2 linked regions of the Homo sapiens genome follow. The protein of the gene in region 1 purifies or fractionates together with the protein of each later gene. This does not show direct contact. Each region holds a gene or a part of one and is shown on either strand. Other genes may lie near its edges.

The links. Proteins that work in one complex are often made in the same cells at the same time.
Region 2: the proteins of MAP3K15 (region 1) and SLC7A5 purify together in Homo sapiens (affinity purification with mass spectrometry, with the first as the bait; one large-scale study listed by BioGRID). This does not show direct contact.

The regions. Positions count from the first base shown.
Region 1 is NC_000023.11:19,369,009-19,372,508, reverse strand, and holds part of MAP3K15 (mitogen-activated protein kinase kinase kinase 15), read left to right. Parts: intron 1-978; coding exon 979-1,164; intron 1,165-1,444; coding exon 1,445-1,550; intron 1,551-3,289; coding exon 3,290-3,455; intron 3,456-3,500. UniProt on the Homo sapiens protein: Serine/threonine kinase which acts as a component of the MAP kinase signal transduction pathway. Once activated, acts as an upstream activator of the p38 MAPK signal transduction cascade through the phosphorylation and activation of several MAP kinase kinases.
Region 2 is NC_000016.10:87,866,708-87,870,928, forward strand, and holds the start of SLC7A5 (large neutral amino acids transporter small subunit 1), read right to left. Parts: upstream 2,801-4,221; 5' UTR 2,716-2,800; coding exon 2,178-2,715; intron 1-2,177. UniProt on the Homo sapiens protein: The heterodimer with SLC3A2 functions as a sodium-independent, high-affinity transporter that mediates uptake of large neutral amino acids such as phenylalanine, tyrosine, leucine, histidine, methionine, tryptophan, valine, isoleucine and alanine.

The sequences.
Region 1 (3,500 bases):
TCCTTCCCTTCCCCAACAAAACAAAAGAAAATACAAAGAAAAAAAGCTCTGCCGAAACATGAATTTGCAGATACCGCAGTGATTCCAGGCACTGGTGGGGCGGTGCTGCCCCCTGGTGAAAACCAGCCAGATTGTAGCAGAAAGCCCGAAGCACCTTCTCTGGCCTCTCATGATCCGGTTTTGAGTCCTGGAGTTAATCCCCAGCTGTAGGACACGCTAGAGCTGCCCTCAGAAGCTGGGAGAACAGCCACCTTGGGGAGGGTGGTTATGGGTGAAAATAACTGATTTTGAACTAGGGCACAGGACTGGCAAACCGATTCCCCTCCATTATTTCAGTTTATTTATTATTGTTTTTTAATCTTTTTTTTTTTTTTTTTTAGACAGTCTCACTCTGTCGCCCAGGCTGGAGTGCAGCGGTGTGATCTTGGCTCACTGCAACCTCCGCCTCCTAGGTTCAAGTGATTCTCCCGCCTCAGCCTTTCCAGTAGCTGGGATTACACAGCGCCTGCCACCACACCCAGCTAATTTCTGTATTTTTAGTAGAGATGGGGTTTCGCCTTGTTGGCCAGGCTGGTCTTGAACTCCTGACCTCAGGTGATCTGCCTGCCTAGGCTTCCCAAAGTGCTGGGATTACAGGTGTGAGCCACCGTGCCCGGCCCCCCTCCCTTATTTCAGATGGAAAAGGGCCTTTTAGGAAGAGGCCGCTGCTCCGCTCTGAACTATGTCTATGGCCTTGATGGGGGCTCTTACAAGGGGTTAAACAGGAAGCCATTCACAGAGGGGCTTAGCTGTACACCCACCAGGGAGAAGGGGCCAGGACCCTGACAGGAAGGTTATGGAGGGAACAAACAGAGACCCCTTCTCACCTGGGAGTTCCACAAGTTTCTTAGCAAATGGACCATCTTGTTTCCCCCAGTGTGTTCTGAACTCTCGCTCTCTCAATCTGACTCAATGAAAATGATTTGTGTGTGTTTTCAGAGTTCCGAAGAGTTGCATCTCTCAGTTGGACACATCAAGCAAATCATTGGGATCCTGAGGGACTTCATCCGCTCCCCAGAGCACCGGGTGATGGCGACCACAATATCAAAGCTCAAGGTGGACCTGGACTTTGACAGCTCGTCCATCAGTCAGATTCACCTGGTGCTGTTCGGATTTCAGGATGCCGTAAGTGCTCCATCTGGCCCTAGGGAACACACCAGATCTTGGAATTCAGTTACCACCTCCTCCCATAGCCCCCATCTCTTCTTAACTGTATACACCTGAATCCCAAGCTTCAGCAGCTCCTCCTAAACAATGAAGTCCAGGAAATGGCATCTGGGTGAACTGGCTGATTGCATGCGGCCCCCAAGAGGATGAGTGTAGGTTGCCGTGATTCTCCGTGCAATGCACTGGAAATCTGGATTTTTGTGATTTTAGTTTATTTTATTATTTTTTTTTTTTTTAGGTAAATAAAATTTTGAGGAACCACTTAATTAGGCCCCACTGGATGTTCGCGATGGACAACATCATCCGCCGAGCGGTGCAGGCCGCGGTCACCATTCTCATCCCAGGTGAGCGCCCCCTTTGTGGTCAAGGTCAGCTTTAGGCCGTGAAAAGATAAGAAATATCCTCTTCATTCAACAGTTGTTGCTTTTCTCTTTTCCATCTTGGTTATCTACTTCCTTGGAATTAAATGCATGTTGTCATAGACTTCTTCCGGGGCTGATTCTGTAGTTCTGAGAGCATCTCGTGGTGCTGTATTTACGTGTCCCTGAAGCATGATGAAGGTGACTACACATAAACTATAACTCACAATCTCAAAAGGGAGCATGGGGCCGGACGCGGTGGCTCATGCCTGTAATCCCAGCACTTTGGGAGGACGAGGTGGGCAGATCAGCTGAGGTCAGGAGTTCAAGACCAGGCTGGCCAACATAGTGAAACCCCGTCTCTACTAAAAATACAAAAAATTAGCCAGGCTTGGTGGCACGTGCCTGTAATCCCAGCTACTCGGGAGGCTGAGGCAGGAAAATCGCTTGAACCCGGGTGGTGGAGGTTGCAGTGAGCCGAGATCACGCCACTGCACTCCAGCCTGGGCAACAGAGTGAGATTCCGTCTCAATAAAAATAAACAAATACATAAATAATATTAAATTAAAAGGGAGCATGGGGCCAGAGGGGAAGGATCCTCCAGTCCTCTGGTATCCCCTTCATCGTGCACTCAGGAATGTTTCTTGGGTAACTGACAATACAGTGGCTCAGATTCCTCTCTCTGAATCATCATGTAGTAGTTACAGAAGTTTTTGGTTTTTGTCAATTTCCTTTTTGAAATGTTACCAAAGTTGATTCTCCTTCTCTGGTGACTTCTTCCTGCTAAGGGAGGCTTTACAGCCCATTCTGTCGCCATCATGGTTTCCCCCTTTCCTTCAGCTCCTTGCTGTTTGGCTCCAGCCCACCCTCCCGAATGCACTGTGTAGCCCAGGCTCAGCTGCAGGAGAGGCTTGGGAAACCCCAGTGCTTAATTCCTCTCCCACTCCAAGCAGACACCTTCTGTAGTAAAACGGCACAGGCTTGGGTGGCAGCCTGGCTCTACTTATTTCTTTCTTTTCTTTTTTTTTTTTTCTGAGACAGAGTCTTGCTCTGTCACCCAGGCTGGAGTGCAATGATGCGATCTCGCCTCACTGCAACCTCCATCTCCCAGGTTCAAGCAATTCTCCTGCCTCAGCCTCCGGAGTAGCTGGGGCTACAGGTGCGCGCCACCACACCCAGCTAATTTTTTTTAGTAGAGACGGGGTTTCACCATGTTGGCCAGGATGGTCTTGATCTCTTGACCTTGTGATCTGCCCGCCTCAGCCTCCCAAAGTGATGGGATTACAGGCGTGAGCCACTGCGCCTGGACCTGGCTAATTTTTGTATATATTTTTTAGTAGAGATGGGGTTTCACCATGTTGGCCGGGCTGGTTTCAAACTCCTGACCTCAAGTGATCTGCCTGCCTCAGCCTCCCAAAGTGCTTGGATTACAGGTGTAAGCCATTGCTCCTGGCCTGGTTGTACCTTTTGAACGCTGGCCTTGGTTCACTTCATATCCTTAAGCCTCAATTTCTTCCTGTGGAAACTGGCGTGATCAACTTTACGCTGCAGAGAACCAAATGGAACAGTCTCTTCTCCATTTGTAAAGTCAGCAGTCCCCTAATGGAGCATGGCACGGGCTGGGCCAGCTTCTGAACAGCCCGGTTTGCTGACCTGGGTGTCTGCGACCCCAGGCCCCACTGGCCTGGTTTGCTCACCATTGTCATGTCTTGTGTGATTTGCAGAGCTCCGAGCCCACTTTGAGCCTACCTGTGAGACTGAAGGGGTAGATAAGGACATGGATGAAGCGGAAGAGGGCTATCCCCCAGCCACCGGACCTGGCCAGGAGGCCCAGCCCCACCAGCAGCACCTGAGCCTCCAGCTGGGTGAGCTCAGACAGGAGACCAACAGGTGAGGAGCTTCTGGGCCCTCCTCTGGGAGCAGGCGCTGGGACAG
Region 2 (4,221 bases), on another chromosome or scaffold:
CCGCCTGCCTCGGCCTCCCAAGTGCTGGGATTACAGGTGTGAGCCACAGTGCCTGGCTGGTTTGAATTTTTAAATGATGATGAATTCATGTATGACTGATGTGATTTTTATTAGAAAGAGAAAACTAGGCAGCGCCCCATCCTACGTCTCCTTCCTGGTGGCCAATGAAGCATTTCCCACGACTCACTCCTGGCACCAGCAGGAAGTCAGAGACTCAGCACCCAGGGGCTGCTTTTTTTTTTTTGAGACAGGCTTGCTCTGTCACCCAGACTGGAGTGCAGTGGCGGGATCTCAACTCACTGCAACCTCCACATCCCGGAGCATGCCTCAGACTCATAAGCAGCTGGGATTACAGGCGTGAGCCACTCTGCCCGGCTAATTTTTGTATTTTTAGTAGAGATGGGGTTTCACCATGTTGGTCAGGCTGGTCTCGAACTCCTGACCTCGGTAGATCCGCCCGTCTCGGCCTCCCAAAGTGCTGGGATTATAGGCGTGGGCCATCACACCCAGCCAACCAGGGGTTCATTTTTTAAAGATAAGAGTGCAGGCTGCGTAAGCTACTATCCATGTCGTTACATACCGGGCCGACATGTACCTAGGCGGGAGGGAGACTGAACCAGTGAAATTCTAATGACAAAAAAAGAAATCAGAGTCATCCCCTACATTCACATCTCCAACGCCCAGCTGGAAGGCACAGGCTCTCCCCACTGCTGTCCTGCTACGATTTTTCCCGGCTTTGACCTGCATGGTGGTGCGGCTGCTCGACTCAGAGCCTCAGAGAAACCACACAGAGCCCTGCTGAGTCTTGCCCTCGGGGCATTCTCACATTTATGAAGAAATGCCTCCCCCTCCCCCTCCCCCCCAAAGTACGGTGTGGCAGAAAACAGCGCCAACAGGTCCTGCCAGTCAGAAGCCACTCCCCTGATTTCATGGCTCAAGACCCCAACTATAAATTAGCCCTTCCCACCTTGAATGTGTACACACACTATTGAGATGCAGGCCGATCCATGCCATGGGATGAATCTGAGAATTGCCAAGACCCACCTTCCCACGCCACCCAACCAAATCATGTGGCATCTGCTACAAGTGATTTTCCCCCTGAAATCCCACAAGAAAACTATTTTGAGGCCGGGCACGGTGGCTCACGCCTGTAATCCCAGCACTTTGGGAGGCCGAGGCGGGCGGATCACAAGGTCAGGAGATCGAGACCATCCTGGCTAACACGGTGAAACGCCGTCTCTACTAAAAATACAAAAAAAATTACCCGGGCGTAGTGGCGGGCACCTGTAGTCCCAGCTACTCGGGAGGCTGAGCCAGGAGAATGGCATGAACCTGGGAGGCGGGCTTGCGGTGAGCCGAGATCGTGCCACTGTACTCCAGCCTGGGCGACTGAGCGGGACTCAGTGTCAAAAAAAAAAAAAAAAAAGAAAGAAAAAGAAAAAGAAAACTATTTTGAAAAGCAGTTATCTCTGGCCTGGTGAAGAACACACCAGCACCATGCCCACCAAAACAGGAGCCCCATGGCTGTTTCCCAGAGAAACCTGGGACCCGCACGTCCATTCACTGCAACACAGACTGAATCTGCAGCCAAGCTCCGCTCTCTCACTACTGGGAACCCTCAGGGGGGATCCCTTAGCCTAAATCAGCACCAGTCACTACCCGCACACGATGTTATTACTACTGTTTTCTTATGAGTCAGCCCGTGTCACTGATTCCTGACGAGCTGGTGTGGAGAGCAGAAATGAATGATTTTTTTTTTAACTGCAATTTCCTTCTCACCAACCAGTCAGCAATCGGAGCTCTAACAGTAAACCGATTGCTCAGTTACTCCACGTGGGTGCCACGCAAGAGGCTGGGAGTATTGCTCAGCGGGGCCAACGGGAGGGTGGCACTTGCCTAAACCGCTTAAGTGGGGGAATGGAATGCCCACCGAAGGGCAGGGCAGGGACCCTGCTGTCCCGTCACTGAAGATATTCCCAGCCTGTGGGGAGAAGTGTAAAAGAATGAATGAAAGAAACGCACGTGGTTTCTGGGACCAATGACCTTAGCCTAGAACTGCCGGGATGGTCCAGGAACGTAAAGATGTAGAGATGTGGGAGCCAGGGGCGTAGTGATGCAAGGATGCAGGGACCCAGAGACTACGACCTCCCAACCCCCGGCCCGCGCCCCGTACTCACGCACGCAGAGGCAGGCCACGAGCTTGGCTGCCTCCTCGGGCACCGGGCAGGTGGGGAAGAGCGGCTTGAGCAGGTAGGTGGCGAAGACCAGGGCCACGATGTACTGCGATGAAGGCCGGATGATGAGCAGCTCGATCCAGAGCTTGAGGAAGGCGGGCAGCGAGCCGTAGACCTCCAGCATGTAGGCGTAGTCGCCGCCCGATTTGGAGATGGTGGTGCCGAGCTCCGCGTAGCAGAGCGCGCCCACGATGGAGAAGACGCCGCACGCGGCCCACACCACCAGCGCCAGCCCCGGCGAGCCTGCCTCCTTGAGCACGCCCGTGGGCGTCACGAAGATGCCCGAGCCGATAATGGTCCCCACGATGATGGCCACGCCGTTGAGCAGCGTGATGTTCCGCTGCAGGGTCACGCCCTCGCCCTCGCCTGCCGGCGCCGAGCCGTCCGCGCTCTTGGCGGCCAGCATCTTCTCCCGCGCCTCTTCCTTCTCCTCGGCCGCCGGCGCCGCTAGCGCGCGCCGCTTCGGGCCCGCACCCGCCATGCTCTGCGCACCGGCCGGGCCTGGGACACCCGGGAGCCGCGGCCCAGCGAGCAGTGTGCGCGCCGCCCGCCGCCCGCAGCTGCGTCAGGAACCCCGCCCGCGCCGCCTTTTAGGCCCCGGCCCGCCGGCCCCGCCCACCGTCCGCGGCTCCTCCCCGCCCCGTGGCCCGGCCCCGTCCCTCAGCCCCGCCCCCTCGGCCCAGCTCGGAGCACGTGCGTCGTCCGGCCCAGCCTGGCGGGCTATTCCCAGGCCCGCGTGGTCCTCGAAGGCCCCAGTCCTCCTGCGCCATGGAGACCCCGGCCTCGCGACCTCCCCCCTCCCGGCGCCCGCGTCATCCCAGCCCGTCCTCCCGGATGCGCCTGGGCGGGGCCTGGCAGTCAGGGCGCGCCCCTTCACCCACTGGCCCGCAGCCTCTCGTCAAGCCTGGGAGCGGGCAGTGCACCAGGGCTGGCCTGAGGCCAAGGATGGAGTTTGGGGTACCCCCCGAAGGGAACCTAGGCTCCTGTCCCGGATGGGCCGAGGGGATGGAACCGCCCCCACAACCAGCTCCTGGGGCACGGGGGAGGGATGAGAGGATGACCTGAGGGGAAGCTCCTGCAGCCTCCTTCCAGCCTGGGGGCTGCATCAGTGGGGCTGGTGAGCCGCGAACTGGGACGAGGGAAGAACCGAACCGAGGCCACCCAGTAATTCCCATTGTATCCCAAAAGAATCTTGCCAAAGACGGCGATCCGGTGCCCGTAGCTTTGAGAAGCAGTAATAACACAGGCTTTGGGAAGCCAGCAATCTGCCTGAGCTCAATTTAATCAACAGAACCGGGGGTTCGCTGGGAGCCATAAGACCCCCACCCCCAAATCTACCTGGGGAATTCAAAGGCAGGCTTCAGTGTGAAGGGGCTTTAAAGCTTGTTATTCCTAGGGAATGCGAGAGGCATCTTAGCTAAAAAGGGTTGAGAGGTAATTTCAGTTAGAGGCGAGAGCAGGATGCCAAGGCTCCTAGGCCTGGAAATGGGAAGGAATATAAATACTGCCCCGAGATTGACCAGACTGGTGAGCGGCCAAAGACCTGTTCAAAGGGTGTGTGTGGGTCAGGGAGGAAGCTCCTCAGTATCACCCCACCCCGGGGTTCCTTGGCGTGTGTGCAAACGAGTCCTTGGAAGCTCACAGCAGGCATGTGGGGAGGCCTTTGTTCTGGGTGAGCGTTCAGCCTCCCAGGGCAAACACGCAAACACCGGTTGCAGAGCTGGGTGTTCACAGCAAGACAGTCTGCTGGGCAGATGCCTCTGGAATCCACAGAATTCTGAACAATAGCCGTGGTGGAGGGGGGTCAGAATCCCTGTCGTGCTGGGACCTCTAGCTGCAGCCAGGAATGTCCAGGCCCCACCCCAGGGAGGGGGCGGCTGAGGAATGCCAGGGCTTGTCATTCTGGACCTTGCTCGCCCCCCGGTATGTCGGGCATTCCTCTGCGGTGATAAAACCGAGCGAAATCTCAGCAGCCCAGGCAGCCACA